Homo sapiens: one gene and its partners. Changing the gene in region 7 together with the main gene of any one other region gives a genetic interaction. Each region holds a gene or a part of one and is shown on either strand. Other genes may lie near its edges.

Evidence for each region.
Region 1: changes in RAB2A (region 7) and ARL5B together harm fitness more than expected from each alone (negative genetic interaction), as found in Homo sapiens cells (one large-scale study listed by BioGRID).
Region 2: changes in RAB2A (region 7) and ARL5A together harm fitness more than expected from each alone (negative genetic interaction), as found in Homo sapiens cells (one large-scale study listed by BioGRID).
Region 3: changes in RAB2A (region 7) and TRAPPC12 together harm fitness more than expected from each alone (negative genetic interaction), as found in Homo sapiens cells (one large-scale study listed by BioGRID).
Region 4: changes in RAB2A (region 7) and TRAPPC11 together harm fitness less than expected from each alone (positive genetic interaction), as found in Homo sapiens cells (one large-scale study listed by BioGRID).
Region 5: changes in RAB2A (region 7) and VPS45 together harm fitness less than expected from each alone (positive genetic interaction), as found in Homo sapiens cells (one large-scale study listed by BioGRID).
Region 6: changes in RAB2A (region 7) and CAND1 together harm fitness more than expected from each alone (negative genetic interaction), as found in Homo sapiens cells (one large-scale study listed by BioGRID).

The regions. Positions count from the first base shown.
Region 1 is NC_000010.11:18,678,729-18,682,386, reverse strand, and holds the end of ARL5B (ADP-ribosylation factor-like protein 5B), read right to left. Parts: 3' UTR 748-3,658; downstream 1-747.
Region 2 is NC_000002.12:151,818,178-151,822,480, forward strand, and holds part of ARL5A (ADP-ribosylation factor-like protein 5A), read right to left. Parts: intron 1-4,303. UniProt on the Homo sapiens protein: Lacks ADP-ribosylation enhancing activity.
Region 3 is NC_000002.12:3,476,472-3,480,460, reverse strand, and holds the end of TRAPPC12 (trafficking protein particle complex subunit 12), read right to left. Parts: intron 2,767-3,989; coding exon 2,666-2,766; intron 1,869-2,665; exon of another isoform or gene 1,616-1,868; coding exon 1,528-1,615; exon of another isoform or gene 1,243-1,527; coding exon 1,000-1,242; 3' UTR 896-999; downstream 1-895. UniProt on the Homo sapiens protein: Component of the TRAPP complex, which is involved in endoplasmic reticulum to Golgi apparatus trafficking at a very early stage.
Region 4 is NC_000004.12:183,686,793-183,691,095, reverse strand, and holds part of TRAPPC11 (trafficking protein particle complex subunit 11), read right to left. Parts: intron 1-4,303. UniProt on the Homo sapiens protein: Involved in endoplasmic reticulum to Golgi apparatus trafficking at a very early stage.
Region 5 is NC_000001.11:150,070,290-150,074,592, reverse strand, and holds part of VPS45 (vacuolar protein sorting-associated protein 45), read right to left. Parts: intron 2,428-4,303; coding exon 2,367-2,427; intron 1-2,366. UniProt on the Homo sapiens protein: May play a role in vesicle-mediated protein trafficking from the Golgi stack through the trans-Golgi network.
Region 6 is NC_000012.12:67,299,971-67,304,273, reverse strand, and holds part of CAND1 (cullin-associated NEDD8-dissociated protein 1), read right to left. Parts: intron 1,952-4,303; coding exon 1,659-1,951; intron 1-1,658. UniProt on the Homo sapiens protein: Key assembly factor of SCF (SKP1-CUL1-F-box protein) E3 ubiquitin ligase complexes that promotes the exchange of the substrate-recognition F-box subunit in SCF complexes, thereby playing a key role in the cellular repertoire of SCF complexes.
Region 7 is NC_000008.11:60,585,889-60,590,191, reverse strand, and holds part of RAB2A (ras-related protein Rab-2A), read right to left. Parts: intron 1-4,303.

The DNA of each region.
Region 1 (3,658 bases), on a different chromosome or scaffold from region 7:
CTAGGTACCTGAAATTCCTAACCTTCTACTCAAAATTCCTAACTCTGTAATTATGAGTCATTTTTCTACGTAGGCAACTTTTATCACATTCCCAAAGAGGTCTGTGAGCAAAAACGGTGGAGTTAAAACCACTTTAGAGGAATGTGAAGAATGAACATAGTGAAAATGTTATCCCACTCATTATTAGATCTCAATTTTATTTTATTTTTTACAAGGACACAACTTTGGTAGATGATCCCAATTATACCCCACAATGGAGTACACACCAATCCGGATCACCTTCCCAGGCCAGGGATTCCCCTTCTCTGGTAAATGCACCTTCCACTTGGCCAGTTGTTTAGATCAGAGAGAGGAAATGACCCAATGCAGGCTAATGAACAATTTCCCTGGGGAATATGGAATTGTAATTGAAAGTCTAACAATAATCTGACTTCTCCCTTGTACAAATTTAGGAGGCTACTGGACTTGGGACATTATCTGTTATGTGGATCAGGAAACAGAGAAATCCAGTCAGGTGAAAGACAGAAACAGATGAGCAGGAAAAAAGGTAACTTCCTGCTTGCTCCTAAATGGTCCAGTCTCTAGTCTCAGTCTGTTCTACAAATCCAGTTGTTCCGTGGGTTCTGTGAGCCTCCACCACCTCACCCCAATTATCCTCTCTTTGTTGGCATAGGTGGGTTTCTATTATTTGCAAGCAAATAACTTAAAGCAGATTTACCTTTAAAAGAAAACACTGGATTCACTTCGTATTGGAAAAGTAATTATTTATTATGACAAAAATAAAACTGTTGAATGAAAACAAATGAATGTTACACTATATTGCACCATGATTGGAAATGAGCCAAAACCTGTCTAAAAGATGAACATTCCAGAGCAAACAGCATCGTTTTACTTGGGTTAAGTAGGCATGCAAACAACTCATTATAACATAATTGCAGAAATAAAAATTATGAGTACTGGCAACCTAAACTTAACATATAAAAGAAGCACTTCATAACTAATAAAGTATTAAAAACTTTAAAACATGTCATTTAAACAATCCCACCATCAGGAAAACATGCTTTGAACCATTTTCAAGAAGTGATCATGTGAATGCATTAATTTACTTGTTTTAAATTTTTTGTTGTTGTTGTTAATGCTTATATATTGGACCAATGGAACACATTTGTTTGGCTGGGGTTCAGACACACAGTTTGTGGTGTGAAAGACATTTTTCTTTCCTCTGCACAATACCGGAGGACCCACAGAGCAATCCAATTCCTAATTCTGACCTTATTAATACCATCTTCCAGTTGACCAAGCATAGTAATGAAGATATTCTTAGAGCTTTCGCAGAAAGCCTGAAGCTTAAGGAGTAACAACAGTTTGTATTTAAATCTTAAGAAATGCACATATATATGAATATAGACACTTTAAAGTTGTTTTGCATTCTGAGGCAAGAAATAATAAATACTGAGTACAGGGCCTGCTGCTTCCTCTTTAATGCTCTAAAGCACCAATTTATGTTAAAATAGCAAAGTGTGATTATAATCATTCACTCTGATTAGAATAAACGCAACACCAAGGTTGTAATTGCTGTTAGGTTTTTGTTGTTGTTGTTTTTAACATGCTCTGTGGAATAGATGAACATGGTAAAATTTGTAACTATTCTGTAATTGAAAAAAATCATGACCGTTTTATTTTACACTTTCACTGAAATAGCAGCTAAACTTTTTTTAAGTCATAAATAAAAGTTTTTGTAACTACACTCAACAGTTTACTCCAAGAGAATAAAATAGGGGCTTCAGAGTCCCTAAATTTCCTGAGGGAAAATATAAGATTAAAATGATTATGGTCTCTTGTGAATAGGGCTTAAATATGCAAATAAGTCACTGATGACTGGGATCAACTGATAGTCATTTGATATCTTACCAACACTGATGGAAATATATTCACAGTATAAAAGAATCCATCAAATTTAGGATTTCTCCTTTCCCTTATCTAATTAAACTAATTAAATATTGACTGAGCACTTTCCTATGTGCTTTAATGAAACCATATGTGAATCTCATATATCTACCATGTTGGCCCAGCTGGTAAACAAGAGTAAAACAAAACAAAGTCTCCAAGGAATGCTATCCCTTAGTTATGAATTTTGCATATTTCAAATACAGTTTGGGTGAAGGGGGTTTTTATGGGATGGTACAAACATCCCACAAACTTGAGCAAAGCACCTTATGGATTGAAAAATGAGGTAATTTTTTAATTAAAATTTTACAAGTTGTGCAAGAAAACATATCCATTCTTTTAAAACTTTGTTTTCTATTCCAAAAGCTATGCACAGCACATTTCATATTTCTCCATTTCCAGGAGAAAATGTAGATTACTGGTTTAAGAAATGCAAAAGATGCCTTTATGTGACTACAGTTCCAAATTCTAAAACCCTAATCAGTCTTCACTCCTTTGGCCACATTAAGAATAATACAGGCCATCTAGCTGTATGGTAAAAAGACAGTATTTTTTAGTAATTTTAAGTACCCTAAATACGAGGAGAGGCAGAAATTCACTGCTTTCATTCACATTTTCTCTTACCTAATATCCTTTTGAAGTTTTTTCGACCTCATGATATTGTCTTTACTTTCAAGTGCTTTGAATTTGTTTTTCGTATGCTTCTAAACCTCCAAATTAATATTTCCCAAATGTTTCACCAAACTATATACATTTAAAGCTGCCTTTAGGTCTGAGGGGCACAATTTTTTTTTCTGCTTTAAATTTAAAATGGAATAGTTGAACATATTTTTTTATATTGGTCTTCCTCTATTTATTTTGGTCCCCTAAAATTTTTTAAAAATACTTTTTTGGGGAACCTGGCTTTTGGATTTCAGTCTTCACAGTAAAAGTGAATGAATAAGGAGGAGACGCTACTGAAAAACTAACCTTGAATATAAACCACTTTCAGATTTATGTAGACATTTATGTAGACATTTGTAAAAGACTGACAACCTGGCTACTAACCCTACTCTTTCAATATGGAAAGTCACACAGAACTATAGACTGGGGTGGCATCAAACGGCAATAAACTCTGAACAAATTAACCACTTCCATTCAATTAGTACAAGCCAAGAAAATAAGGTAAATTATCTAGAAGAGAATTATTTCCAACACAGGCTGGTTCTTTCTAAGCAGCTTACTATCCTTTTCTTAGCAATATGGCTTGTTTTCTCTTTTGCATTGTCATTAGCTATTTCTATTCAGCTATTAATTCGCTGAATTTAAGTTGAATAGCAGTTACTGATACGTTTTTCCCTACTTGGTTGTATTCGTATTCTAAATAAAATAACAGGTGGGAATCAAATAATGGATAAAAATACATTTAATTTCATATTACCTGTATTGCCCTACTATTTGAGGGATTTTTAATTTTTAATAGTAGTATATAAGCATTCAGAATTTTAAAACCAAAAGACATTTTAGAGCTGTAGTTTAAGTTCCTCAGTATGGGAAAAACAAAAGGAAAGCCATGGACACTAATTGTCTAAGGTCAACTAGACAATTGAGAAACGGCCAAATTAAGGCTCAAATCCACTTTTTTAGATGGCTAGCACAATATTCTACTAGATACAAGACACCATGCTGTATCTTGAAGTCACTTTACCCCGGCAAAATGTAAAATAGCCTT
Region 2 (4,303 bases), on a different chromosome or scaffold from region 7:
GAGGATATGTTACATGATGGCTGAATTAAAATCAGATGATTACTTGGGGAGCATGGAATCCCAACCACAAGGAGTGTTACAGGCTGCAATGACTGATGTGAATCCTTTCTTTTTTTTTGAGACAGGGTCTCACTCTTGCTGCCCAGGCTGGATTGCAGTATCACAATCACGGCTCACTGTTGCCTCAACCTCCCAGGCTCAAGTGATCCACCCACCTCACCCTCCTGAGTAGCTGAGACCACAGGTGTGCACCACCACGCCTGGATATTTTGTTTCTTTTGTAGAGATGGGATGTCCCTGTGTTTCCCAGGCCGGTCTCAAACTCCTGGGCTCAAGCAATCCTCCCGCCTCAGCCTCAAAAAGTGCTAGGATTACAGGTGCAAGCCACTGTACCTGGTCTGAATTCATCTTTAGAGCAAGGCCATGCCTGCATGAGGGCCAGGTAATCGAGTCCTTGGGACAAGGTACCTTTGCACCTAGAAAGTTTTTAAATAGCATGGCAATTCTGCCTAACTCCATTTTTCTATGTCCCAAAATTAAGCATTCCTTTTTTGATGATGTAACTCCTCTTCAGTTTTATTAATACACGCACTCATAAACATTTTTAACACAACTAGAATTCATTATCAGGCTATACTCTGATCTCTGACTTGGATAAGAGTTTTTAGCTTCCCAGGAGAATACTGATTTTTAATCACAGCATTCTCAAAATGTCAGCTTATTTTTAAGTTACGGGAATATATCCCGCCCCCGCCTCCACCCCATTCCCCCAATGTATTAGCTACGGGGCAGAATTTAGATGGGCTTCTCAATACTTGGGAAGAAAATACAATTACTCTGACCAATGAAATACCAGAGAAAATACAACTACTTTGACCCTAAAAACAGTACAAAATTAGCAGGAAAAGTCCAAAAGGAAACAAAAACATAGGCAAGAATCTATAATATATAACAATAAAGAATGACTAAAAAATGTGTATATGTATAAATAATGTACACAGAGACAACGAAGTAAAAAACAGTACTCTCTCAGTTTCTTACAAGGGCCGTAATCAGCTAAGGAGGTTAAACACTTATTCCAACCATGTTACCATTTTTTCAAAATAGTTTGCTACGGTTCTTTTATAATTGCTTTCAGAGCCTGAGGTACACCATTTTGAATATTGCCACCTAATGGTGGCAAATCTTTTAAACTCTGAAGATGAACTTGACTTTAAAGTGGGAGATGAGCCACCTCGTATCATCTTGGTCATAAGGTAAAAGGTATCTAAAATGAGTGCCATTTTTTTTTTGTTAAGTGAAATATGAAGAATTATTTAAAAATTTGTTTCCAAAGAACTTCTGAGTTTCAAAGAATAGATTGAATAATAGTAGGACATACCAGTGGAAAAACTATATAGCCTCCTAAAATGATAGCTTTAAAGTAAAACCTCATCTGGCTTTAGTACAGGTATTTTTTTAAGTGGTCTCCTTACTTCAGCCATGTCCTTAGGACTTGGTTACTATGTCCTAATTCCAAACCTGGTGCTTTTCTAACAGTTCTGTTAGGAAAAACTAGCTAGGCAAAAACTACTGAAAAAAAAAAAAAGACTCTTAGGCCAGGCATGGTGGCTCACACCTGTAATCCCAGCACTTTGGGAGGCCGAGGCAGGTGGATCACAAAGTCAGGAGTTCAAGACCAGCCTGGCCAAGATGGTGAAACCCCATCTCTACTAAAAATACAAAAAAATTAGCCTGGCATGGTGGCGTGAGCCTATAGTCCCAGCTACTTGGGAGGCTAAGGTAGACGAATTGCTTGAACCTGGGAGGCAGAGGTAAAATTCTTTATCATACCTGGCCACTAGCTGAACATGATCACCAAGGTAAAACTGCTGTGAACAAAACCATGTGCTATAACACACAGACAAGTCTAAGATAAAGCAGATGGCAGAAATTACTCATTCCAGGATTTCATCTTATAACACAACTTAGTTGCCTACTGAGGAAAGGAAAAGGTTAACAGTTTCAAGATGCATCATCTTTTACAACCACTGTATGGAATGAACTAGAGTATCAATAAGCTGAAATTAGATAACCTATCCTGTGGTGGATTAGGATTTAAACTGCTTTAAATCTTTCTTTAACAGTGCCTAGAAATAAAGAAGGCACACTGGAGAGAGAAGGTATAGTAGATGATACAGGGTAGGAATCCACATGTCTGGGCCAGGCACAGTGGCTCACGCCTGTAATCCCAGCACTTTGGGGGGCTGAGGCGGGTGGATCACTTGAGGTCAGGAGTCCAAAACCAGCTTGGCCAACATGGCGAAACCCCGTCTCTACTAAAAATTCAAAAATTAGCTGGGTGTGGTGGCACACACTTGTGGTCCCAGCTACTTGGGAGGCTGAGGCATGAGAATCAGTTGAACCTGGGAGTCAGAGGTTGCAGTGAGCCAAGATTGTGTCACTGCACTCCAGCCTGGGCGACAGAGTGAGATCCTGTCTCCAAAAAAAAAAAAAAAAAAAAAAAAACAGAATCCATATGTCTGGCATGGTGGAAAATGTTAATAGAGAAAAGCGTGTCGGAGACAGTGATAAGAAAGAAATGAAGTGGCTAGCCATGGAATTTGGGCCGGGAAAGAAATCCAGTCCTGCCCTACAAGGTTAAGAATGTCCGGAAGTCCTAGCAGGTGAAAGGTTAGGTTATTGTTAGGGTAGAAGGAAAGATGAAAGGTAAAATGGCTATGAACAAGAGGAGAGAAATTAGCCAAGGTCTGAAGCTTTGGAGGACCCATAACCTTCTGTCTGCACCTGAAAGTGAATAACTAAATCCAGGTAAGATCATTAGATAAACATGATGAAAAAGGATGAGTGTGACAAAGCTAGCTAAGCCTTAGCCCAAATCTTCCCCTAACTCTTCTTGACCTACGTACTAAAACTTAGAAAAGCTGCTCTACTCAGTCTCTAGAACATGTCATAAACTTTCCAATCATTTAACTTTGCTCATGCCATTCTCCACACTACAATCTTACTCTTCTGCCTACCTATTTTACAAATTCAATGAATTCCTATATACTTACAAATGCATAAATATGCAACCATGCCCCCAAACTCTTAAGACCTAAGCAGATTTCTAAAGTCAATCAAGGGAAACCAAACTAATATATTTGAACATATCATATTCTTACCAAATGGTTAAAATACTTCAAAAACAAAAAGGAGGAAAGAAACTCCAATCAAACATAAGCAGAACCTGGAAAATATCCAAAAAAACCACATGTAGTCATGTGGTCTGAGATCTCTGGAGGGCCATTCCAATGAAGAATCCATGATCCAGAGGATCTTTACCTCCTTACTCCACCCAAACACCTACAAACTACATTCATTACAAAGTTCTAGTTGCTTCCTCCCAAGACGTAGCTCTATTTGAGTTTTTTTGTATTTTCACAATAAAGCACCAATGACTTTTTTGAGACGCAGTCTCGCTGTTGCCCAGGCTAGAGTGCAGTGGTGTGAGCTTGGCTCAATGAAACCTCTACCTCCCAGGTTCAAACGATTCTCCTCCTGCCTCAGCCTCTCAAGCAGCTGGGACTACAGGCAGGCACTACCATGCCCGGCTTTCTTTTTTTTTTTTTCTTTTTTTTTTTTTTTTTTGAGACGGAGTCTCGCCGTATGCCCAGCTAATTTTTTAATTTATTTATATTTATTTATTTAGAGATGGAGTCTCGCCCTGTCGCCCAGGCTGGAGTGCAATGGCATGATCTCGGCTCACTGCAACCTCTGCCTCCCAGGTTCAAGGGATTCTCCTGCCTCAGCCTCCCGAGTAGCTGGAACTACAGGTGCGCACCACCACGCCCAGCTAATTTTTGTATTTTTAGTAGAGACAGGATTTCACCATATTGGCCAGGCTGGTCTTGAACTCCTGACCTCATGATCCACCTGCCTCGGCCTGCCAAAGTGCTGGGATTACAGGTGTGAACCACCTGCACGTGAATCATCAGAAGTTTACTGTGCCTGGCCTAATTTTTGTATTTTTAGTAGAGATAGGGGTTTTGCCATGTTGGCCAAGCTGGTCTTGAACTCCTGACCTCAGGTGATCCATCTGCCTTGGCCTCCCAAAGTGCTGGGATTACAGGCATGAGCCACTGCGTCCCGGCCACCAATGACCATTTTTAATAGCTTCCTAAATCTAAGACATAGCATGTGGGTCACAATGAGAACTATAAAATTAAGACCAAACTGTGCAATGGGCTCAAAGACAAACGTGTCATCTCAATAATAGGGTCAGATTAGTCACAAAGTTTTTAATAGTAGATCAATTTCCTCT
Region 3 (3,989 bases), on a different chromosome or scaffold from region 7:
AATGCATAATTAATCTAGATGTCAGCAAATGGGCTGAGACTGTCTGGTAGATGCAGTGTTTGTATGTTTCTACTCTATTACAAAAATTAACAGAAATATGGCTTCGCTTTGTGCAAATGTTTATATCACAGTCTGTAAAATGAATTATATTTAAAACTATCCACAAAGCTAGATATTTAGAGAACCCTTGGCAGAGTTCTTTCGTAAAGTGAAGACATTTTCAGGTACTTTAAGTTCTTCAAAAGCAGGAATAACTGTGTAAACGTAAGGGCAAAAGGCCTTTCAGGCATGAGAGAACACATGAAAACACGTGTCTGGCTTCAAAACCACCCCCAGCCCCTGCCTGCCTGCGTTTTACGCGCTCTTCCTGTGCTTCATTATGCGTCGTGCTTCCTGTTCCACTCAGCTCACTCTCCACGTGGACGTATAAACTATGGGAGAAACAGTGATGGCCTCTCCTCCACCGCCAGGCTGGCAGGGGTCGTTTGGCTGGCATCAGGCTGGAGGAGACTCGGATGGGTAAGACCAACGCACTTAGTTTTGGGTGTGTGGGGAGGGCAAGAGGAGCATGAGCGGCGATCTGTGGGGGGTGTCTTCCCTGTTGTAAATCTCCCTGTACGTGCAGGTGCACGGCGAGAGGGTCTCCACACCTCCCAGCTTTTCTCTGAGGATGTCCAGAAGGAACGAGCAAAGCAGGATTGGCCTCCAGAACAGAGGCCCCGAGGCTGACTCCAGATTTCCTGTCTACGAGCTGTGTCCTCCCAGCACGCCTGCCCCTTGCATTCATGAACAGTGACCCAGCTGCAGGGACTGCGTGGCTGAACGCCGACCAACTGCGGGGAAGTCCTGGGCTGGGCCGTGGCTTGGGACCAAGAAGACACGCAGCAGACACCAGTGAAGCAGGAGTTTTATTGAGTTCCTCCATGTCACATTAATACATTAGCTTCAAGACACAGTTTCAAAGACCCGGGTCCTTCTGACGTAGTGTGTTGGAGGCAGCTAGGCCAGCTTGAGGCACTGTGTGTTGAAGCTGTCCCCCTCCTTGCCGGCGACAGCCTCCAGCAGGGCCTGTTTCTTCTGCATGCTCCGTGAGGACTCCAGCTCGTACATGGTGGTCAGGTTGAAGAGCACGCTCTCGTGCAGGTAGTGCCTGGGGTCCTGCTGGACCATGGCCTCCAGCTGCCGCAGGGAGTCCTTGAGCTTGCCCAGGTAGAGCAGACACACGGCAGCGTTGTTGTTGGCCTAGGGAGGAGCACACGCCCAGGGTTGGCCCACACAACCAGGACAGACGCCCGCCCATTCCAGGCTGCGTGCTGGGCCGTGTTAGGGGCCTGGGGGTGGTGCAGAGCTGCTGGGCAGAGCCTAGGTGGCCCTGTTGGGTCACTTCCCCTAAGGGCCACAGCCACTGCCTGGAGCTGGTGGACTGGAGAGAGAGAGCGCAGGCCCCTGCTGAGACGTGTGTGGGTGTATGTTTCTAGCGTCTGTGAAAGGCAGAGGATGGAGGATCCTGCAGCTTGGGGATCTTACCACTGCGTTTCTTGGATCCATCCTTAAGATCTCTGTGAAGAACCTGTGGGCTTCTGCAAAGTTATTCTGCCCGAGGTGAAGGAACGCGCTGTAACACAAGCAACGGTGGCAGTTAGCGGGGAAAGCCCAGGAGCTGCTGTCCCCCAACACAACCCACAGGGGCTTTGGATCCCACAGAGACCCAGCGTATGGCCCTGTGTGGCCCGGGGTTCCTGATCTCCAGGTAGAGGCGGTGAGCTGCGTTTTGCATTCAGGCTCGCACATTAAAGCCACTCTAGTTTTTATTTATTTTTATTTTTTAGATGGAGTTTTGCTCTCGTTGCCCAGGCTGTAGTGCAGTGGCACGATCTCGGCTCACCGCAACCTCCGCCTCCTGGATTCAAGCAACTCTCCTGCCTCAGCCTCCCAAGTAGCTGGGATTACAGGCGACTGCCACCACGCCTGGCTAATTTTTTGTATTTTTAGTAGAGATGGGGTTTCACCATGTTGGCCAGGCTGGCCTCAAACTCCTGACCTCAAGTGATCTACGTGCCTCAGCTTCCCAAAGTGCTGAGATTACAGGCATGAGCCACTGCACCCGGCCAAGCCACTCTAGTTTTTGTTAATTGAGATAGAGTAACTTCACCTAAATGACTTCCTGCTAAAAGCGGACACCTGCTTTATTTACGCTTTCTGATCCTGGCTGCAGGCTTTGTCCAAGGCGTGTTTCCTCCTCACGAACGTGCACTCGCACGACGCTGTGCGTTCTACCACAGAACACCAGAGCACGGGATCCAGACACAGAACACCAGAGCACGGGATCCAGACACAGAACACCAGAGCACAGGATCCAGAACGGCCGCTACGCCAGCAATGGTGACCTTTACACACACATACGCTGAAAACGGGGGCAATACAAGCGCTTCTCTGAAGAACAAGGGGGAATAGCTCCTTAAAAATCAGCTTCTGTGACTAAAAGAACATCACTGCGATTCAAGAAAACACCTGTATACTCCTTGGGTCTCCGCTCTGAGAGACACAGGGCAAGAGGAGATACAGGGAGAAGCGCCTTCTCTAGGGAGCTTTCCAACTCAGTAAGTGGGGCTTGAACGCCTCTGGGAAATTTGAGAAAACATATATTTAGTTTTAAAATATTTACCTGTTCATCAAAACCATGATTTTACCCTGTAGTCCATCTAATTTCTGTGTTACTTTCTCAACGTCTTGAAAATACTTTTCAGCTGTTTTTATGTCTCCAATCTGCTTTGACAAAATTTAGTCAGTTTAGTTGACAAAAGAAATATTAAGTCTATACTCATATATTTAGTTCCCTAATATCATGTTAGAATATGAAGACATTTATATGTCAGGCAGAGGAAAACTTCAGTAACCATTTAATCATTTTTTAATAAAAAGGCAAAAGACATTTAAGATACAGTGGAATGTTAATGTTCTATATGTCAGAAACTAAGTTGCTAATATACACGCCTTATTTAAGAGTCTTATAGTTTAGTAATTTTTACCTTTTGGAATGAATTCTGGCAGAGCATTAGATAAAATAAAATGAATAACTAATAAGATGAAACATAAAATACTTAAAATATTGGTATAATATGAGCAGGTCCTACGTCAACTTATGAGTTACTTGTGGCTAGTAAAATGGTAGGTGCCACCACATTTGCAAATTGCAAAGTAATATTTTGACCAAATAATATAGAATTCAACTGTAAAAAACAAGCCAAACCAAACTCAAACCCACTCTTATCACGCATGTCAGGAAACCCACCGGCTGCCCGACTGAAATGCAGCCGGATGCAGCAGGCCTGTGGCAGAGGAGGCCTGGGGGGTGGAAGGCTGAGTGCCCCAGCCCTGACTCCTGAGGCCACAGCTTGGTTTTACAAAGGCAGACTTGGGTTTTCTTTCACCTCTAGAAGTGTAAGGAAGGGAATAAATGATCTAAGGCTTACAATAAGAAATAGATACAAATGAAAGAAAAGTCCTATTATGGCCCAAGCCGCGCTCACGAGGGTAAAGACAGAGTTGCTTTGTGTCCGGGGCACAGCCTGCGGGAGCCAGAATGTGACAGCGAGCTCTGTTATCATGGCAGCAGCAGAAACTTAACAGAATGCTGTCCTCTGTCTCGATGAGAAACAAGCTGAATGCGCGCGGCTCACCTCCATGAGGAGGGCTGGGGCACCCATCACTATCATACTGAGCAGCCTAGTTAACTCTTAGACTGTCCACGCCAAGCATCTGTCCAGCATTAAAACAAGCCTGCTAACTTCTCAGATGACTGGTGGGGAGATGGTTCTCCATGGGTGTCATGTTTCTGCATGTCTTCCAAGCACAGACAGTGACAAGGCTTTGTTCAAAGCATTTACACAAGGATGCCTGTTTAGAGGACAGCCTTGTAAGCTAAACTGCATCCCTCTGGGGCAAAGGGCAGGCAGGCTCGCCTCCCAGTAGCAAGGATTTGGGTGTTC
Region 4 (4,303 bases), on a different chromosome or scaffold from region 7:
GCTATCCCTCTCCCAGAGAAACAGTTTGTTCTTTGTTGCACTGGACACTACTGTTTATCACCTCCTTTTCTTGAAGAGCCTTTTTTTACTTGGCTTCTGTGATGCTATAATCTTTCCTGTTTCTCATCCTGCTTGGTTACTTCCTGTTTTTCCTACCTGGAGTGCAGTGGCATGATCTCGGCTCACTGTAGCCTCAACCTTTTGGACCCAAGGGATAGTCCCACCTCAGCCTCCAAAGTAGCTGGGACCATAGGCATGTACGATCACACTAGACTAATTTTTCTATTTTTTGTAGAGATGGGGTCTCACTACGTTGCCCAAGCTGGTTTCAAACTTCCTGGGCTCAAGTGATCCTCCTGCCTCAGCCTTCAAAAGTGTTGGGATTACAGGTGTGAGCCACCAAGCCCAGCCCCATTCCTTTGCTTTCTTTCAGGTCTTCATTTCTCTCTCTGTTCACTTCATTGGAAATGTATTTGTTTCCACGTTCACCATACCATTGTTGCTAGTATCTCTCACATACAGTTGTCCTATTCTGTCTTATTTCCTTAATTACAAGCTTATATCCACAACTGTCTAGAGGACAAGTCCACTACCACTGAAACTCAGCACGTCCCAAAGTGAATGTGCATCTGCCTTCCCAGAAGAGAACAATCCTCATAGATGAGTAAAGGAAGACAGCTTTCATGTTTCTATCTATGGAATCACTATTCTCATCTGTTCAATAAATATCAAGACCTTTCCAAGAGCCATCTTCTATTCCAGCATATAAATTACCTTCATAGAAATTCTTACACAGTTCAAGTATTATACTTTCCCGCCAATTTTCATTTCTATTCCATGCTTATAAAAACTACTCTACTTTTTTTTTTCTTATGGTTTATATTGTGAATTTCTTTTCTTTTAAGACGGAGTCTCACTCCATCGCCCACTAGAAATGCAATTTCAGCTCACTACAACCTCCGCCTCTCAGGTTCAAGCAATTCTCATGCCTCAGCCTCCCAAGTAGCTGAGACTACAGGCACCCGCCACCACGCTCAGCTAATTTTTGGGTTTTTAGTAGAGATGGGGTTTCACCATGTTGGCCAGGCTGGTCTTGAACTCCTGACCTCCAGTGATCCGCCCACCTTGGCCTCCCAAAGTGCTGGGATTACAGGCGTGAGCCACTGCGCCCCGCCTGTATCTTAAATTTCAAATAAGATATATTCAGAATATAATCTAAATTTTAAAACTAATTGCTTTATATTCCATTTTAGCGTTATTAGTTTTTAATTATAGTAGCTTATATTTTTTGTTGAAAAAAAAAAGGAAAGAAAAGAAATGAAATAGTAGGCTATTAAGGGAAAAGTAAAATAAGAGTCCCCATACTTCACTTGAGCCCAGGAGTTTGAGGCTGAGATGAGTTATGATCACATCACTGCACTCCAGCCTGGGCAACAAAGTATCTCTTTAAAAAAAAAAAAAAAAGAGTCCTTGTGTTGACCCTCTAATTTCATAATGAACAAAACAAACAAACAAAAAAAACCCCTGCCCTTCTGCCCTTGTGGAGCTTAGATTCCAGTAAGGAAAAACAGGTAATTTACCAAATAATCACACAGACAACGGTGAAACCACAGTGTGATTAGTACTACCAAGGCTATGAGAGCCTGGCTAAGTGATTCAGTCATGTAAGTCAGGGGAGGCTTCCCTGAAGAAGTGATGCTTTTAAGTGAGAAAAGGCAAGAAGGAATGAAGTAGTCGGAGAGGAGGGCAAACCAATTCAAGCAGAGGAAAGGGCATGTACAAAACCTCCTGTCCTTCATTCATCCTATCCCCACTTTTCAGCCGCTATATGCACTTGGCAATCCAGATTTATCTATTTTTAAATGCCTCTTATATCCCTGAATCTCCATTCCCAACACCAGCAACTCAATTCCGATACTTGTACTTTTGTACATGGATTAATATAAAGAGCCTCTAATTGGCTTCCATGATATTATTTCTATTTTGCTACTAGAATAAAGTTTCTTAAAACTTTAAGAATAAATTGCATGCTCTTGCTTTAAAATTCTCAAACTGGGCCAGGCATGATGGCTCACACCTGTAATCCCAGCACTTTGGGAGGCTGAGGTGGGTGGGCTCCTTGAGCCCAGCAGTTCAAGACCAGCCTGAGCAACACTCCATCTCTATAAAAAAATACAAAAATTAGCTGGGCATGGTGGCATGTGCCTGTAGTCCCAGCTACTCAGAGGAGGCTGAGGTGGGAGGATCACTTGAGCCTGGGAGACTAAGGCTGCAGTAACTCAAGATGGTGCCACTGCACTCCAGCCTGGGAGATAGAGTGCAGCCTTGTCTCAAAACACACACAAACACACACACACACACGCACACACACTAAAATAAAATTCTCAAACGGATTAGAGGAAATCCCTGGGCAAGGGTCTGAAGTTGAATAGAACATACTGATCTTCAGGTGACCCAGCTTCATCTAATCATTTCTATTACAGAGATATTTCTCTTTTCTTATGAATCAAATCCTAATAAAACAGATAACGTTTCTTTATCACCATCCAATAAATAGAACACAGACAAAAGAACAAATAAATCTTCAAAGACATCTGTTTACTAGCCTATCCCCGCTTAACTCTTCCAGGTTCCTTTAAGCCACCTGGCCTTATTTCCCACCACCCAGCATTATAAACCCTCTGTTCTAGTGAGGTGTGACTTTCCCAGAAACACAGATTGTGCGCTTCTGTTTCCATGCAGTGTTTTCTCATTGCCAAACATGTTCTCCCCCTCCATCTTTTCGACCTATCGTAATTTCATCTTCATTCTTGGAACTCCCTCCCTTTTTTCTGGCATGCCTACTACAGCTGTCCCTCTTTCTAGCCTACACTACGTAATTTAGTCTTCATTACCTATTTGGGCAATCTTTGATTCTGTCCTGGCCCTTGTCCCCAAAATGCCTAAATTTTAATGAGGTCGACATATGCTATACTCAGATTCAGCATGTTAAGAATATCGTAACTCTCAATAAATGCTTGTTGGTGAAAGACTCACTATACTTTCTGGGTAATCAAAAGATGATTATCTACTAAGTGAGTTTATAATAGAGTTGTAATGAAGTACTTGACTATATACTATATAATGCTTCAAATATATTCAAATGCAGGAAATATGATCCCAATTCTGCAAGAAAAAAAGTTGCTTATATATTCATGTGCAGAAAATGTCTAGGTTATTCAAGAAGTTAACGTAGAGGGTGTGTGGGAGAATGGAGAAGAAAGAAGACACACATTTACTTTTCACATTATATCCATCTATTCCATTTCAATTTTTTAAATGTCAAACATAAATTAGTTCCATAATCATAAACTAATAACATTAACTAATAATGTTGAAGTAAAATATAAACCAAATGTTTTTTTAATTCTATTCATTCTGAATATACCTTATTTGGAATTCAAGTATACATTATAAAAAAAATTTAAGGCCAGATGTGATGCCTCACACCTGTAATCCTAGCACTTTGGGAGGCTGAGGTTGGTGGATCACTGGAGCCCAGGAGTTCAAGACCAGCTTGGGCAACACAGCAAAACCCTGTCTCTACAAAAAATACAAAAGTTAGCCAGACGTGGTGGCAGGTGCCTGTAGTTCCAGCTACTTAGGGGGCTAAGGTGGGAGTCCAAAAGGTTGAGGCTACAGTGAGCTATGATTGCACCAATGCACTCTAGCCTGGGCAACAGAGCGAGACCCCGTCTCAAAAAAGACAGAAAAAAAAAGTATATATATACTATATGTGTACATATATATATATATACACACACACACAGAGAATTCTTAAGACTTTATAAACATGGAGTGAAAACAAAAATTGGAGTAAGCAAAGTGTAAACTTGAATTGCTAGAAGTTTAGAAACATATATATATATATATTTTTTGACACAGATCTTGCTCTGTCACCAGGCTGGAGTGCAGTGGCACGATCTCAGCTCACTGCAACCTCCATCTCCCGAGTTCAAGTGATTCTCCTGCCTCAGCCTCCCAAGTAGCTGGGACTACAGGCACGTGCCACCACACCCAGCAGATTTTTTTGTATTTTTAGTAGAGACGGGGTTTCACCATGTTGGCCAGGCTGGTCTCGATCTCTTGACCTTGTGATCTGCCTGCCTCGGCCTCCCAAAGTGCTGAGATTACAGGCGTGAGCCACTGTGCCCGGCCCTGGAGATATATTTTTGAATAGACCTTACCAAAGTTCATTTGTTACTATGAAACCATTAAGACATAAAATTCACTAAGCTCATTTTATCTAGTTTAACATAAGCTA
Region 5 (4,303 bases), on a different chromosome or scaffold from region 7:
ACTCCTGGGGGTTATTTACCCCAGAGAATGAAGACTTAATGTTCACATAAAAATCTGTACACAGATATTTATAGCAGCTTTATTTGTAATAGCCAAAACTGGAAATAACTCATATGTCCTTCAATGGTGTATAGTTAAACAAACTGTGGTACATTCATACCATGGAATACTACTCAGCAATAAAAAGAAATGAACTATTTTTAAATTAAGAAAACTTTTTTTTTTGCAGTTCCAGCTCAAAGGAGGAATGAACTATTAATACACACAACAGGTGAGGTGTGGTGGCTCATGCCTGTAATCCCAGTACTTCGGGAGGCTGAAGCGGGCGTATCACCCAAGGTCAGGAGTTTGAGACCAGTCTGGACAACCAACACGGTGAAACCCTGTCTCTACTAAAAAAAAATACAAAAATTAGCTGGGCGTGGTGGTGTGTACCTGTAATCCTAGCTACTCGGGAGGCTGAGGTGGGAGAATCGCTTGAACCCGGGAGGTGGAGGTTGCAGTGAGTTGAGATGGCGACACTGCACTCCAGCCTGGGTGACAAAGCAAGACTGCTTCTCGGACAAAAAAAAAAAACAAAAACAACACACACACACACACAGAACAGCCTGGATGACTCTCCAGAGAATTATGCTGAGTGAAAAAAGCCAGTCCCAAAAGATTATATGCTGTATGATTTCATTTATAGAACATTCTTCGAATGACAAAATATAAAATGGAGAAAATATTAGTGGTTACCAGGGTTAATGAGGGGGTTGGGGTGGGACAGAAGTCCATATAAGCTAATAAAAGGGATCCTTATAGAGATGAAAATGTTGTGTATCCTGACTGTATCAGTGTTAACATCTTGGTTGTGATATTGTACTATCATCATGTAAGATACTACACAGGGGGAAGCTGGGTAAAGGGTATCTGGGATCTCTGTATTATTATTCGTTGTTTTTTTTTTAACTGCACATGAATCTACAATTACTTCAAAATAGAAAGTTTAATTTTAAAAAGAAAACCTGTGACTATTAGCCAAAAACAAACAGACAAAAACAAACAAAAATTAAGTTGCCACAGATTAATAAAATTGCCTATTTTTACCTCTTGGGGCGTCGTGCACTGAAAACCCACTGGACAAGCTTTATGTAACTTTTCAATTCTACACAGAACTGAATGAAATAAAATATGAGAGAGCTCTTATATATATATAGTCTTTTCGCAAATGTTAATTTTTTGTATCATTATTCTATTTAAGTAGTATACGCTGAAGAAAGTATGTACGTCTTAGACTGTAGTCTAAACCCTAAAACTCTAATACCTTTAAGTAAGCTTTAAAACTTCTCAAATGCCCTACTTACTGTTAAATCTAGTCCTTGGTTTTGGAAATGTTACCAAATAGACTACACTAACACTATTAACATAAAGATAAATAATGACATCTAGAGGAGAATAGATGTAACTTCTACAGCCGAATGTATTGGATCAAAAAAATCCATGTAAATTGTATAGTAAACACAAACCTAGTTTATTTCCAGATCTCCCCTACCTAACCCCCACTCCAAGAAAGTTGTGCACATAAGAGATCACTACCTGATGATTTATACTTTCAGTGCATTAAATATAGTAACAAAGAGAAGTGAAAGGCTTTTATCTGGTATGTAAAGTAAATTTCTGCTTTTCCAGCAAACTCAAGTATTACCTTCCCACTTCAAAAAATAAATCAGCTTCCATGCCTCAATTTTTAAGTGTAAAACAGGGATAAGTATATACTTTTTTTTTTTGGCAGGGGTGAGATGTGAAATTTGTCTACTTAAAACTTTTGACTTACAAAGCATCTTGAAAGGCAAAGTAAAATGTAAAATTTTTAATTTAAGCAATCAAAGATGAATGGAAATCACATTTAGCCCTCTGAAACAGAATATTGGTCAAAAGTATTTTTTTTTTTTTTGAGATGGAGTTTCGCTTTGTTGCCCAGGCTGGAGTGCAATGGCGCAATCTCGGCTCACTGCAATCTCCGCCTCTCCGGTTCAAGCGATTCTCCTGCCTCAGCCTCCCAAGTAGCTGGGATTACAGGCATGTGCCACCATGCCCAGCTAATCTTGTATTTTTAGTAGAGATGGGGTTTCACCATGTTGGTCAGGCTGGTCTCAAACTCCTCAGATGATCCGCCCGCCTTGGCCTCCCAAAGTGCTGGGATTACAGGTGTGAGCCACCGCGCCCGGCAGGTCAAAAGATTTTTAATACTTTGGAAGGACATTAAATAAACTAGACTTTTATAGTGACAGATTCAATGAAGTTATTGATGATATGAAGGGCTCAATGAAACACACTAACTGGGATGTTGTTACATGTTTGAAAAAGTGAACTAACATACTTACAAATGAAATATATAGTGTATTTGGGTCTTCGGAGCTCCTGAATAATATAATCCACATTCTCCTAGAAAATGAAGAACAAGCAAACAAAATATGAGGAGAGTTGCTTAAGGAAAAAAGTAATAAGCATTCACCCATTGATTTGTTTATTTACTGCGTCTACTGCATATTGAAGTCTAGGTTAAGTGTGCTTATGTTGGTGGGTAAGGGCTGGAGACAAAAGAGATAAATTAAATACAATGATCGGGAATCATATATTATTTAATAATATGTGTATAATATTAAATATTAACCAGCTGCATTTTGGCCAATTAAGATAAAGAATATAAAGGACACAGATGTTGAAACACAACATAAAATTGATTATAATTCTGCAAACTCACATCAAGCTGCTTGTCTATAAATTGTATTCATTTGCTCAAAATTCTTTTTTTTTTTTTTTGAGATTAAGTCTCACTCTGTTGCCCAGGCTGGAGTGCAATGGCACAATCTTGGCTCACTGTAACCTCCGTCTCCTGGGTTCAAGCAATTCTCCTGTCTCAGCCTCCCAAGTAGCTGAGATTACAGGTTTGTGCCACCATACCCAGCTAATTTTTTGTAATTGTAGCAGAGACGGGGTTTCACCATGTTGGCCAGGCTGGTCTCGAACTCCTGACCTCAACTGATCCACCTGGCTTGGCCTCCCAAAGTGTTAGGATTACAGGCATGAGCCACTGCGCCTGGCCTGATCAAAATTCCTATATAGAGCATTAAATGTGTCTATTCCTTTAAAAATTAACATGCAAGAGAAAATAAAGTTAATTATATTCACTTTGGCTTTTAACTTATTGGGATGTAAGACTCTGCACAACTACAATGTTTGTGAAGTATTTGCAAGTAGCAGGCTAAGATCTTTTCTACAATTACATTGTTTTAAAATAAAGTATGAAAGTTTAAAACAAAAAAGTTGATTTTTATATGGTCAAAATATAAGATTCCAATTACATAAGATTATAATGCAGGTTTTATTGGTTTTTGATACTATAACACCTGGTTAAATTTCAATATAAATTGTTCCCTAAACATATTAATTTGTTTTAAAAATCACATTTCTTTACAGAATTAAAAAAAAGTAAGCAATATATACTGCTTATTAATGGGGAAAGGGTTTTAAAAATTGTAATTTAGATTTAAAAATGCAATTTAGATTTCAAATTAACTTTATAATATAATCTTAAGGCAAAAAATTTAAATAATAAATCTTTTAAACCTCAATTACTTCCTCGTAATATGCTAGGCAAAAATAACAAAGTGAATTAAAAGATTCTTAAAAGTTCAGACAATGTGGAAAAAGACAAAAGAGAATATATAAAAGAGGAAAAAGAAAAAGGAAAGATTCTTTTTTAAAAATTATTTTTAATTTTTATTTTATTATTATTTTTTGAGACGGAGTCTTGCTCTGTCGCCAGGCTGGACTACAGTGGCGTGATCTCAGCTTACTGCAACCTCTGACTCCCTGGTTCAAGCGATTCTCCTGCCTCAGCCTCCCTAGTAGCTGGGACTACAGGCGCCTGCCACCATGCCTGGCTAATTTTTTTGTTGTTTTTTTTTTTTGTATTTTTAGTAGAGACGGGGTTTCACCATGTTGGCCAGGATGGTCTCGATCTCCTGACCTCGTGATCCGCCTGCCTTGGCCTCCCAAAGTGCTAGGATTACAGGCGTGAGCCACCGCGCCCGGCCAAAAGGAAAGATTCTTAAAAGAGTTCGAGAGACAGTACATAACAGTGAAAGAGTTTCTCTAATAAAAAACATTAGGAAATAATGAACTAGATGATCTCTAACATATCTCTTGAACCAAAATTTCATGACTAAGAGCTACAAACATGAAACAATTGGAAACTATTATAACACAGCATGTGTTCATTAATTCAGCAACTGTTTATTGAGTGTCCACTGTGTGA
Region 6 (4,303 bases), on a different chromosome or scaffold from region 7:
GCTCACGCCTGTAATCCCAGCACTTTGGGAGGCTGAGGCAGGCAGATCACGAGGTCAAGAAATCGAGACCATTCTGGCCAACATGGTGAAACCCTGTCTCTATTAAAAATACAAAAATTAGCTGGGCGTGGTGGTGCATGCCTGTACTCCCAGCTACTCGGGAGGCTGAGACAGGAGAATCGCTTGAACCCAGGAGGCGGAGGTTGCAGTGAGCCGAGATAGCACCACTGCGCTCCAGCCTGGCAACAGAGCAAGACTCCATCTCAAAAAAAAAAAAAAAAGAGAAAGAAAGAAATTAATCAAATCATATTTTCAATAAAAAATTTAGGAGGTTAATTTATAAATGGTATTTTGAATGACAACAGCACAGATAAAAATCAAAGGAAACAAGACAAATTATGGAAAAGCAACCATCGAACAGGTCCTTTTCTTACTTTCCATTTGCTGTTAGAAGGAATCAACCTCACTTCAAATGTAGCTACAAGCAGCAGGGGTATGATTAAAAGACATCTGCTCTAAACTTCCTAATGTTTTGCTAGTCAGTAAAACAAACAGGGTCTCTACTAACAAATCTTACGGATGCAAAGCTATCAACGGAGCTTCTAGAATACCTCAACAGCAAAGCAAGTACAGAGTAAAAACAAAAAGCCAAGAAAAATCCCAACAACCAAACTACATGGACACATACCCTAATTACACAATGATCTAAGAACTAGACAAAACAAAAAAAATGTCTGACTTTCCATAGCATTGTCAGAATTCCTGGCAACTCTACTGAGCAATACCTGACTTCTATATACTCACTCACTTGCATATGTCCTCCATACACTTTATCTCATTTCCTTCTACAATTAATCTTCAACATTCACCTTTATGAGTAAGTTCACCACAAAAATGTATTTATTTGTACTACTTAAAAACAAGATAGATACAGTATGTGTGTCCCGTCCTCTCCACTGGTTTAATCCCTGGCAATATCTGTTTTGTAATCTATAAAAATTGACCTACTATTTGTGCATCCCATAGGGCTGCTGTAGAGATTACATATAAGATAGGAGAATGCCTGGTATGTAATAAATATTCAATAAATGGGAGCATATAATAGCTCTAATGTTTAGGATCTTAGAAAACAAATGCCCTCAAGTGAAAAAATGTGTATTTTATTAGTAAGTACTGGCATATATCAAGCATATATGTAGTAGGCACTACACTGAATGCTCTACACAGATCACCCAGCTCTCACAACCACAGGTAGATATTTCTAAGTACGTTCTTATTACAAATAAGAAAAGTGAGGTTTAATAAAATGACTAAATAACTTGCCCAAGATCACACACCTAAATTAGAAATGAAGTCAGTTATGTGATCGCAAGTAGTATGACTCCACAGCTCTAAGACTTCTCTATTAACATCAAAGATAAAGACTACTTTACTGAATCTTAAAATTATTTAAATATTGTTTATCATGTAAAGCCAAGAATAATTCAATTAGAATAGTTTACAACTAACATAATATGAACATGCATTAACTATATAAACATATCCTAGAACTTTCTGCTTCTCTATAGATATTCTGGAACTCACCTTTCCATATAAAGACAATTTTAAAAGCATTGCATTTACTATCATGATTTTCTAAACTTTACTTTAAAACCCACCTGACTCTGAAGCATTGTTAAAGGTGTTTCTCCCTGCTCCATTGCATCAGGGTCACATAGCCAACTTTGTACAGGACGAGTTTGCTTCAAAAGAGAAAGGTATGCGTGAAAAACATCTGCCTTTACATTCTCTTCACGCTCTTTAAATCTGGATATTAGTGCAGGAGAGACGGTCTTGTAGAATTCTGGAAGCATTTCATGCCTTGTGCTAACTACAGCATCCAAGCACTTCGCAGCTGCACGTCTCACTTTCCAACTCATGTCATCATCATCACTGTATTCATCATCACTCCCTAAGGGTAAGTTTTAATGTAAACAGGCTATTAATGACAAGAGAAGTATATCATTTAAAACAGAAAATCAATTGATATTCTTAACCAAATCAGTTAATCTAACTTTCCGGTAACATATACAGCAACAGGTAGGTTTCAACAGAACTAGAACTTGAACAAAGAGCTTGTTATTTCTGTAAATCTGCACATAAATTAAACTTAAAAAACAAACATAATGGTATTTTTAATTAGTTAAACATTTTCTCATTTACTTTGTAATGAACTGCTGCTTATTTTAACCCTTTAAAATCATCAATTAACACATTCAACTTCTTTAGAATATAAATATTTATAGTCATAAATTTCCCAGCCTTTGAAACAAAATTCAAAGAACTTACTTAACAGCATAGGAAAAATCAAGCAAACAATCAGGGACTTTATAAGACAAACCATGAAATGGATTTGTGGTAATAGAGTAGGTGATAAAAAGAATGGTTACCAATCCCAAAACACTGTAGAACTAATTTGCTGGGAATAAAAAGAAGGTTGACATCAGCTTTGTGACTACAAGGCTTTTCACTCAACTTGTTGATAAGCTGTGAGGAACAAATATGTATATTCTAAACCTTTCACAATTTTGTCTTAATGTACTTTAACAAAACCATTTTTGCTTAATTATACCAAGAAAATGCTGCACACTTAACAGAGGACCATTTTTTCCCCTAATGCTAAACCTTAAACATTCAAAGCAAAAGCACTAAGAATTGTATCTCACTTATCTATACTTGATGGATAACATGTGTGTGAAATCTCCAGAAAATCTTTCTTTCTAACACCATCAGGTTTAATTAGTTGGGTAATATGAAGTCAGAAAGGTGGCAGAAATATTAGCAGTTATCATGATAGTCTAAAATTATCTCACAATAATTTCTTTATTCTTAGATAAGACTATACATAGCCTTGAAATAATAGAGCGGAGTAGTAACTTTTTACTGGCTTTTATTCCAATTAGCTTAGTTTGACAGTCAAATGTAGCCAGCTAGGCCTTAGAAGATTCTACAGTATACAACAAAATAATAAAATTTTCCAACTCAAAAGCTTAAAATTCACCTTAGCACATTACAGGAAAATACAACCAAATACTGCTAAATGCAAGACGTTTGCTTATTTACCAATATCTATTCAAATAAAGTTAAAAGATACTGCCAAAATACACTATCAAGTTAAGAGCACATAAAATTTTTTCCATGTCAATACACTATGGCAATTGCCTCCCAGAAATATAAGCTTTATTAAAAACAAGATTATAAAAAATTAACAAATGTCCTTATTCACTAAAATTACGTTGATTTTATAAATCACAAAAACACCATGGTAGAAAAGTCATTTAATGGGTATAATTCATACTAAGTGATAAAGCAGGTGAAGTACCTAGTTTGTTATACAGCACACAAAAAAACAAAATTCAAAACCTGGAATATACATTGCTACTGCTTTCTTCAAAAGATATTCATATTAAAATATAAGCTAAAGTTTCCCTTCATTAATACAACCCATTTATTGATTGCCTGTGTGTCAAGTACTGTCCTAGGCACTGGAATAAAGCAGTCAATCAAGAGATTAAAACATCTAGCCTTCATGAAACTTATATTCTAATAGGTAGGAGACCATCAATTACAGTATGTCAGAAAGTTACTAAGTGTGATAAACAAAATAAAAACAATAAAATGAAAGATAGTTCTGAGGTGGAAGACTAGCTGAGGGATGTGTGAAAAAGGAATCAGGTATGACTGCAAGGTTTTTGGCCTGATCAACTAAGAAGAATAGAGGTACCATTCTGAGATGGAAAAGGCTAAAGAAGAACAGGTTAGGTGGGAGATGGGGAAGGGGCAGGGAAAAGATATTTTAGATATCCAAGCAGCAATATTAATTAAGCAGTTGCATATGAATCTGGATTCACAAGTGAGATCTGGATTAAAGATAGGATGTGGGTTGCCAGCATATTGATATTAAAGCCAGGAGACTAGATGAGATCAACAAAAAAATCAACAGTATAACAGGTTAAGTTCAAGGACTGAGCCTTGGGATACTCTAAGTACAGTGGTCAGGGTGAAGAAGAAGAAACAGCATCGAAGACTGGAGTAATCACAACGATAGGACTACATCCAGGCTAGAATGGTATCCCAGAAGCTAAATAAAGAAATGTTGCCGAGACTGAGTAATACGATAGGCAGAGTCAAACATTTGCAATCTCATCCATCACTGGAGGAGTGGATTCAAGAGAGAATGGAAAAAAGAAAATGGAACTGCATTCTTTTAAGGAGCTCTGTTGTGGAGGAGAGAAACTAGGCAGCAGCTGCTAGAGGAGTATAT
Region 7 (4,303 bases):
GTTAGGAGTTCAAGACCAGCCTGGCCAACATGGTGAAACCCCGTCTCTACAAAAATACAAAAATTAGCTGGGTATGATGGTGGGTGCCTGTAATCCCAGCTACTCAGGAGACTGAGGCGGGAGAATTGCTTGAACCTGGGAGGCGGAGGTTGCAGTGAGCAGAGATCGCGCCACTGCACTCCAGCCTGGGCGACAGAGTGAGACTCCATCTTGGGAAGGGAAAAAAAAAAGAAACAATATAAAATATCAGAGTCTATCACCTATATACATAAGTTCCATCTACTGTTTCATGGAACTTACGTATAAAGGTATAATTTACGAATATTTTGTTATATGTGTAGGTGTATACACAATTTATTTACTAGGTCATGATGTAAAATACATTTCTTACTATAGGTCAAATCAAAAAACTCAAAAGCCATAGTACTTGACGATATACTTAGTGCAAAGTTTTAAAAATACCTCAGTTTTCCAGGCATTACATCATATTGTTGTCTTAGTTCACTCCCTCTGAATCCCACTTAAGTTGCTTAGGTTACTTAAGTATCTTTCTTTTAATTTATGGCCCCTTTTTGTTTAGGGTTTGCATTACAACCCTTACACTATTAAAAAACTTTCATTTTTTAAATCTCTGCTTCCTATTTCTTATATAACCAATTTATTAATAAAATGCCATAGTAAGAAAAATTTGTGTCATCTGTTGCTCTGACTAGGTCACTGCCCTTCACTGGCTCCCTACTGCTTAATGCGTCTAATTCAAAAATTGCTTATTCCCTGTTTTGATGTCTATCCACAGTTCAATTCATCTAAAAATAATCATCTCATTTATTTCTCTCTGTTCTTTCTTGTTCGTTATACTCCTGATTTTAAAGGTCACCCACCTACGATCATCAGAAACATCTCGTTTACATACTATGCTTTGTTTATTTCTTCTCACATTTGAACTATCAGCTCCTAGTGGTCGGTGACCAAATTTAAGCCACCAGTAAGCTGTCACTCATCATGTTTCAGCCACAAGGAAAAAATTGGTAAAATAAAAGGATAAAAATTCTCTTTATTTTCCAAGTATTCTCCTCTTATTATTTCATACCTTGAATGACAGAATAACTATTTCCATCATAGAAAGACTAAAACTTCCCTCCAATAGCTTTATAACCTTAAAAAGGTTTAGTGAGATGATTTAAATGTGGAAAAGAATACCCAAGAAAGGCCTTCAGAGAATATGATAATAGTTTCTTCTCTACACAAAGAAGTAAACAATGTTTAGCTTTTTATAATGTAAATATCACTTAGGTAATATTTTCTCTTAATAGCAAATCTCAATTTCTATTAAAACAACACTCTAAAATCTATACAGTATAACGATGTTTTACATTATAGCTTTTTTGAGGTGTAACAGACATAAAAGAAGTTGTACTTAAATGCAAAATTTGTTGAGTTTTAAGATATGTAAGCCCGTGAAGCCATCAGTCTCCCAAAAGTTTCCTCATACTCCATTGTAATCCATCCCTTCTTGCCCCTGCACCCTAGGCAGCTGATGATCTGCTTTCTGCCACTACAGATTAGTACACATTTACTAGGATTTTTATATAAATGTAATCACATGGTATTTTTGGTCTGAGTTTTTTCACTCTGTAATTATTTTGAGAATCATCCATTTTGCTGCATGTATCAATAGTTCATTCCTCTTTATAGCTGAGTTGTAGTCTGTTGTAATGCTGTATCACTATTTTTCGATTCATCTGTTAATTGATATTTGGGTTGTTTCCAGTTTGGGGCTATTAGAAATAAAGCTGGTATGAATATTTGTACATAATTCTGTGGACACATGAAGACATATTTATGTTGGGTAAACATCTGGGAGTAAAGTGGCTAGGAAATATAGATGTGTGCTTTATTTCTTTTTTTTGAGACAGGGTCTTGCTCTGTGGCCTAGGCTGGAATACAGTGGCATGATCATGGCTCACTGCAGCCTTGACCTCTCAGGCTTAAGTGATCCTACCACCTCAGCCTCTGGAGTAGCTGGGACTACAAGTATGTACCACCATGTTCAGCTACTTTTTTAAAAAATTTCTTATTTTTGTATAGAAGAAGTCTCCCTACATTGCCCAGGCTGGTCTCAAACTCCTAGGCTGAAGCAATCCTCCCGCCTCGGCCTTTTAATTTCTAAAGAAACTACCAAATTGTTTTCCAAAGTGATTGTATCATTTTACGTTCCCATCAGTAGTATATCTTCTGTAGTAATTGCTGGTTCAAATCTTTAGATCATTTTTAAAAAGTGGATGTCTTCTTATTAATGAATTATAAGCATTCTTCATATATTCTAGATATAAATCCTTTGTCAGATACATTTTTCACAAATATTTTCTGCTAGTCTGTAGCTTGTCTTTTCATTTTTGTAACCGTTTTTCTTCAAATTTATTTATTTAAATTGATAGGTAAAATTGCATATATTTATCATGTACAACATATTGTTTTAAAGTATATATACACTGTGGAATGGTTAATCTAGCTAATTTGCATTATCTCACAGTTATCGTTTTTTGTGGTGAGAACACTTAACATCCACTCTTTCAGCATTTTTCCAGAATGCACTATATCATCATTAACCATGTCACGATGTTGTATAATAGTGTAACCGTCTTTTGAAGAACAAAAGTTTTAAATTCAGTTAAAGAACAATTTATTGATTTTTTTTCTGAACTATAAGTTCATGCTTTTCTCTGTCCCATTTAAGAAATGTTTGCCAAAACAGGGTCACTACAATTTGTTTTCTTTTAGAAATTTTAAGTAGTTTTAGCTCTCACACTTAGGTCTATGATCCACTTCCAGTTAATTTTTGTAAATGGTATAATGTAACAGTTGAGGTTCATATTTTTACATATGACTATTAACTGTTTCAGCACCATTTGATGAAAAAGATTACCCCTTCTTCAACTAAATTAGCATCTCTGTCAAAAAATTAATATATCATATATATATGAATCTACTTCTGGAACTTCTTATTCGGCTCTACTGATCTATGTCTGCTTATGCCAAACAATAGTAAATTGACTATAGTATAATAAATCTTAAAATTTGTAGAATAGTAAATTCTCTCCAATATTGTGCCTCTTTGTCAAAGTTGATTTGGCTATTCCGTGGCCTTTGCACATAAACTTTAAAGTCAGCTTGTCAATATCTACCCTCCCAAAAAAGTCTGCCAATGTTTGATAGTTTGATTAGGGTTACAATAAATCTTTTTTTTTTTTTTTTTTTCTTGGAGACAGAGTCTTGCTCTTTTGCCCAGGCTGGAGTGCAGGTGGCACAATCATAGCTCACTGCAACCTTGAGCTCCTGGATTCAAGTGATCCTCTCACCTCTGCTTCCTGAGTAAGTAGAGCTAAAGGCGTGTGCCAGCATGCCTAGCTAGTTTTTTTTAATTATTATTTTATTTTTTGTAGAGATAGGGTCTTGCTACATTCTCAGGCTGGTCTTGAACTCCTTGCCTCATGTGATGCTCCTGCCTTGGCCTCCCAAAGTGCTGGGATTACAGATGTGAGCCATTGTACCTGGCCTTCAATGAATTTTTAGATAAATTTGAGAAGACATCTTATATTTAGTTTTACAATCCATGAACATGGTTATATCTCTTCATTTATTTAGTCTGTTTACAATATTCTCTCTCTTTTTTTTATCTATAGTGATGTCAACCTTTCTTTCCTGATATTGCTAATGTTTGTCTTTTTCCTGATCAGTATCTATTTTATTTTATCTTCTGAAGAATTAGCTTTTGGTTTCATTGGTTTTCTCTCTCTCTTTTTTTTTTAACGGGCAGGAGGCTTTCCTTAACTTTGATTTGCTCTTATTCTAGTTTCTTAAGGCAAAAAAATTAGGCTATTTTCTTTTTTTTTTTGAGACAAGGTCTTGCTTTGTTGCTCAGGCTGGAGTACAGTGGCATGAACACAGTTCACTGCAGCCTCAACTGGGCTCAAGTGATTCTCCCACCTCAGCCTCCTGAGTAGCTGGAATCACAGGAATGCACCATCATGTCTAGCTAAATTTTAAAATTTGTTGTAGAGATGGAGTCTCCCTGTGTTGCCCGGGCTGATCTTGAACTCCTGGGATCAAGCAATCCTCCACCTGGGCCTCCCAAAGTGTTGGGATCACAGGTGTGAGCCACTGTACCTGGCCCTAGGCTGTTCATTTAAAAATTTTCTTGATAGTACTATTTTAACTGCATCTCACACATTTTCAAAGACTGCAGAGAGAGAAGTTAACTTGTGGGAATAAACGCAAATAATTCCTGTCCATGGAAATGCAG